2 separate regions of the Homo sapiens genome follow, and region 2 is linked to region 1. Evidence: fine-mapped expression QTL. A gene starts in region 1. The other region holds a variant in brackets. All regions are shown on one strand. Distances are from middle to middle.

What was found. PIP is the estimated chance that this variant, and not a neighbour inherited with it, causes the effect. A credible set is the group of variants that fine-mapping cannot tell apart.
Region 2: its variant is the best candidate, but not a certain one, in a credible set for the expression of COL4A5 in unexposed skin (GTEx, PIP 0.55).

What each region holds. Positions count from the first base shown.
Region 1 is chrX:108,438,354-108,441,272 of GRCh38, forward strand. It overlaps COL4A5 (collagen type IV alpha 5 chain), which reads left to right and starts at 1,485. Exons shown (of 53, transcript NM_033380.3): 1 at 1,485-1,853. The coding sequence starts at 1,773. COL4A6 (collagen type IV alpha 6 chain) reads right to left here and starts at 69. Exons shown (of 45, transcript NM_033641.4): 1 at 1-69.
Region 2 is chrX:109,143,040-109,145,958 of GRCh38, forward strand. No RefSeq gene overlaps it. Among named protein-coding and RNA genes, the nearest start is that of GUCY2F, 340 kb to the right of the region's middle. RefSeq lists an enhancer at 1,072-1,622. The variant A/G (reference allele first, on the strand shown) is at 1,348.

The DNA.
Region 1 (2,919 bases):
TAGATAAGAAGTGCTCCAAAGGGAAACAGGCTCAGCGGTGCCCGTTACAACTTGCAGCACTCAGGAGATAGTTCCATGCAGCAGGAGAGGAAAGAATGGAGGGGAAAGGGGCGGGGCTGTCTGCTGTCAATCATCCCCCCTACCTTGGGCAGCCGGTAGTCTTTCTCACTTTCAGGCACCTTTCCACACAACAGCCCTAAGTATCTCCACAGCTTCACACACAGCCCCTTAGAGACCTATACGCTAAGACCTAAGCAACTGTGCATCATATACTTTCAACTTTACTGTTAGGTTACACATAAAGAGACATAGGCATACTATTCCCACATAAGACAGATGGGCCCGAAAGTGCCCTTGCACACATGCCCAAATGCATACAACACTGATTCAAATTGATAGTACACTAGGCTATTGGGAAGGGGAGACAGTTTCTGGAGTTGTAAATCCACTCTGAGCTAAGCAGAACCTAAGGATGAGTGGGCCCTCGTGAAATAGATCCAAAACCTTGAAAGACTCTAAAGTGGTTAATTCTAGGAAGATAGAAATGTTGTGAAGAATTCTTCATCAAATTCTTGAAGATTCTCCAAGGAGTCCGCAGAAAGTATTTTCTAGTTCTTTTGTTACTTTAAAAAAAATCTATATATCAGAATTATCAAAGGAACATTCAAGTCTTTATATGGGAGATATCGATTCAGCTGCCATCAACTCTATTTAAATATTTCCAATTAAGTGTTTATATTAATTCTAAGAAACACTGCACTAAATTTATTTAATTCCCTGCCCTAAATCTTTCTGAAACACAACTACAATGAGAGTCAATACCTTTTACATTAGCTCAATATAGGAGGCATTAATTATAGGATTCAATGCAGCTAAACAGAGATATAGCTGTATTATAATAACATAATACCATAGAATAATTACCAATACCTGCTGAATGCTCCCAGATCTTATACGTATATAACACACATAAAGTATTCACGCACATATACTTATTTTCTTACTTGTTTATAAGCATATACTTTATTTATTCCCAATATTTTCACATCTTCTGCTTGTATGTAGAAACTCTCTGTTCTGTGAGCAGCTGGAAGGTAAAGAAGACCAGCAGCCCAGGGAGCACCGACCAAAATTTGTTTCTAATGAGTAACAATAAAAAGCACGGCCCCTCTGAGATCCATCCGCTAAAAAAATAGTCCCAGTTTAGATCTATTTGTAATTGGCTTTGGTACGCACACCAATGAGATTGGAACTGAGCCTAGAAAAGTAGTATCAACGGAAGGTGCAAATGAACGAATAGAAAAGCTTCCCGGTTGGACTCATGGTGCTCAGTCAACTAGTCTGGAAGTTTCCCTCCCCCAAATAACTGAGCGTCACTCCCTCGCAGGTTGCCGGTGCAGTCTAAAACTGTGGCGGAGTGATACTCAAATTCCCTTGTGCTGGTGAGGAGGGGGGCCTTGCACGGGGAAGAGAGGGAGGAAAGTAGATCTGTAGGAATTGAGTGAAGAAAAAGTTTGCAAGTCTGGACAGAAGGGAAAAGTTCTCCTGAGAGACCGGCTTTGGGGAGGGGAGGGGGGAAGGAAGAGTAGCTCCTTCTTCTTCTTCTTTTTTTTTTCTTCCACTCTTAAAAAGCTTCTTTCTCTTCACCCAAGCCTCACTGTCCCTCTCCGGCTCTAGCTCTCTCCATATAAACCCTCAAGATTATGTCAATTGGTTAGAGCCAGCCGGGAATTTCGTGCGGGTGCTGAAGGAGCTGCGGGAGCCGGAGAAGAATGAAACTGCGTGGAGTCAGCCTGGCTGCCGGCTTGTTCTTACTGGCCCTGAGTCTTTGGGGGCAGCCTGCAGAGGCTGCGGTAAGTCCTTCCTCCCCTCCCCCGCGCCCATCACCGCTCTTTCACGCTGAAATTACCTTTTTTTTGGGGGGGGGGTCCCTTTATCTTCCTTTTGGCGTTGACTAGGGAATTCAAATTTGCTTTCTCATGTTTAGGAAGAAACGTTATTTGCAACACCGGTAACTCAAGCCTTCTGAAGTCCAACGGAGAGGTTTAAGTGCTTAAAAATAGGGCTGCTTGCTTCCCTGCAGCTAGCTCCTCCGGGGGCAAGAGCAAAGTCAGAAGTGGGGGACGCTAATTAAAGGCTCACTAGGCTGTGGTGGGTATTTAAAACTTTTCCTCCCCTCCCTCCACCGTCGGGTGTTTCCCTGCCTGGCGACTAACCTTTTCACTACTTGTACCCAGCCCACTCTTTGAATTTTGTCTGTAGTTTAATATTTTGGCTCTTCGAAAATCCAGCTTCCATCAAAGTGTTTTTAGCGCCTCAGTGAAGTTCGTCCCCTTTGCTCTTTCCTTAAGCAACAGGAACCTACCCCCACCTCAGGTCATTCAAGCCACTGACCTCCTTTTCCCTTTTGACATCCTTGTTACAAATGAAATGCTAAGGCAACATACCAAGAAGAGTGAGGTAAAGTCTCAGGCTTCAGGTCTTTTGCGTCTTTTTGTTGTTGTTGTTTTTTCTAAATTATGGGTTTTTTTGTTTGTTTACTTTTTTTTAAACCTACCAAGGCATCTGAACAAATTGAGAATTTGCCCATCACCTATTCAAAGGAAAATACTCCTTTTTCAAAGGAGAATCAGTGTTCCAGTTTAAAGGAAAGTGGGGGAGGAGGTACATGTGAAATAGCAGCAAAAAGCTCCATTCAGTTTTAGGAATGTAGAATTCAAACCTCAGTATATCTCTTAGAAGGGTATCTGGGTAGTCCCACCCACTGTCCTATTGGGGATGAGGGCCAGATGTTAAAAAAATGAATGGCTTTGTGAGAGAAAATGTTCTCCAGCCTGAAGCCCATCATCTTTAATTTCATATAACCTCTGAAGAATAAGTGTGTGACAAATTATTTAAATTTATTTGAGTGATCATTAT
Region 2 (2,919 bases), 700 kb after region 1:
CCCTGTTGACCTGTTTGACAGAGCAGAGACAGTCATTATCTCTCTGGGGACATAATACCAATGGCCTAAGAACCACGCTGTCATCCCCCACAGCTCCTGGAGCAAGCCCCGCCCAAGGAGAACCTGAGCTCAGACACACCTAACCCCACACCAACCTGATAGTCTTTCTCTACCCACCCCAGTAGCTGAAGACAGAGCACATAATCTCTTGAAAGGTCTATGGCCTTGCCCACTGCCTGAGAAACCAGAATATGTGTCCAGCTGACCCTAGGGCAAGCTTGTATCTTCCCCATACTACCGCAGCTGATGCTCCCTTGAAAGCCCCACCTCCTGGCCAGAAGCCAAACAACATAAAACCAGTGCACTAAACAAAAATACAAGCAAGGACCCTCACAGAGTCCACTTCACTCCCCTGCTACCTCCACTGGAACAGGTGCTGGTATCCATGGATGAAAGACCTGAAGACAGATCACATTAAAGAATGCTTTGCAGAAACTCCCCAGTACCAGCCTGGATTCCAGGAGCTCCACTGGGTGGACAGACCCAGAAGAGCAAAAACAACCACTGCAGTTCAGCTCTCAGGAAGCCCTGTCCATAGGGGAAAGGGGAGAACACCACATTAATGGGGTACCCTGTGGGACAAAGAAAAAATCTGCAGCCCTTGAGTCCCAGATTTTCCCTCTGGCATAGTCTACTCAAATGAGAAGGTGTTGTGGAAAGTCAGGGACCCCGAACGGAGGGACTGGCTGAAACCATGGCAGAATGAAATGAATTGTGAAGATTTCATGGGCGTTTATCATTTCCCCAATCAATACTCTTATAATTTCCTATGCCTGTCTTTACTTTAATCTCTTAATCCCATCATCTTCATAAGCTGAGGATATATGTCACCTCAGGACCCTGTAATGATTGTGTTAACTGCAGAAATTGTTCATAAATCATGTGTGTTTGAACAATATGAAACTGGGCACCTTAAGAACAGGGTAACAGTGATTTTCAGGGAACAAGGGAGATAACCTTAAAGTCTGGCTGCCTGTGGGCCGGGCAGGACAGAGCCATATTTCTCTTATTTCCAAAAACGGGTTAGATAAATATGGCTGAATTCTTTCCCCAGTAAGGAATATTAATATTTAACAGCCCTGGGAAAAGAATGCATTCCCAGGGGGGCCTCTAAAATGGCCACCCTGGGACTGTCTGCCTTATGCAGATGTAGATAGGGATGAAACACACCCTAGTCTCCTGCAGCACCCCCAGGCTTGGTAGGATTAGGAAATTCCAGCCTGGCAAATTCTAGTCAGACCAGTTCTCTGCTCTTGAAACCTGTTAAGATGTTTATCATGACAATGC[A/G]TGCACAGCTGGACCTGGAAGTCCATTAGTGATTCTAGTTTTGCCCTGATGTTGTGATCTCACCCTGACCTTCTGCCTTGCGATCTTTTGTTGCCCTTAAAGCATGTGATCTCTGTGACCCATACCCTATTCATACACTCCCTCCCCTTTGAAAATTGCTAACAAAACCTTGCTGGTTTTATGGCTCAGGGGACATCATGGAACCTGCCAACATGTGATGTCTCCCCTGGACACCCAGCTTTAAAATTTCTCTCTTTTGTACTCTTTCTCTTTATTTCTCAGACCGGCCGACACTTAGGGAAAATAGAAAAGGACCCAAGTTGAAATATCAGGGCTGAATTTGACAAATATGACAAAACAAGGTTCTTTAACACCCCCAAAAGATCATACCCACTCACCAGCAATGGATCCAAACCAAGAAAAATATCTATAAATTGCCAGAAAAATAATTCAGAAGGTTGATTATTAAGCTAATCAAGGAGGCAGAAGAGAAAAGTGAAGTCCAACTTAAGGAAATCAAAAGCACGATACATGATATGAAAAAAAAATCTTCAGCAAAACAGCATAAGTAAAAAACAATCAAAACTTCTGGAAATCAAGGCCACACATTGAGAAATGCAAAATGTACTGGAAAGTCTAAGCCATAGACTTGAACAAGCAGAAGAACTTCAGAACTCAAAGACAAGGCTTTTGATTAACCCGATCCATCAAAGACAAAGAAAAAAAAGTTTTAATGAACAAAGCCTCCAAGATGTTTGAGACTATGTTAAACATCCAAACCTAAGAATAATTTGGGTTCCTAAGGAAAAACAGACGTCTAAAAGTTTGGAAAATATATTTCAGGGAATAAATGAGGAAAACATCCCTGATCTTGCTAGAGATCTAGACATCCAAAAACATGAAACTCAAAGAACACTTGGGAAATTCATTGCAAAAAGATCATCACTTAGGCACATAGCTATCAGGTTACGTTTAGTGAAGACAAAGGAAAGAATCTTAAGTGCTGTAAGGCAAAAGTATCAGATAAGCTATAAAGGAAAACTTATCAGATTAACAGCAGATTTCTCAGCAGAAACCCTACAAGCTAGAAGGAATTGGGGGGGTTCCCAATTTTAGTCTCCTTAAACAAAACAATTATCAGCCATGAATTTTGTATCTGGTGAAACTAATCTTCATAAATAAAGGAAAGATACAGTATTTTCCAGATGAACAAATGCTGAGAGAATTCAGCACTACCAAGCCAGCACTACTAGAAGTGCTGAAAGGATCTCTAAATCTTGTAACAAATCCTTGAAATACACCAAAATAGAACCTCCTTAAAGCATAAATCTCACAGGACCTATATAACAATAACACAATGAAAAACACCCAAGATATTCAGGCAACAAATACCATAATGAAAAGAAAAGTACCTCACATCTGAATACTAAAGTTGAATGTAAATGGCCTAAATGCTCCACTTAAAAGATACAGAATGGAGAAGAATTTACCAATTAAGATTCTGCTGTCTGTAGGAGGCTCACCTAATACGTAAGAACTCATGTAAACTTAAGGTAAAAAGGTGTAAAAAGA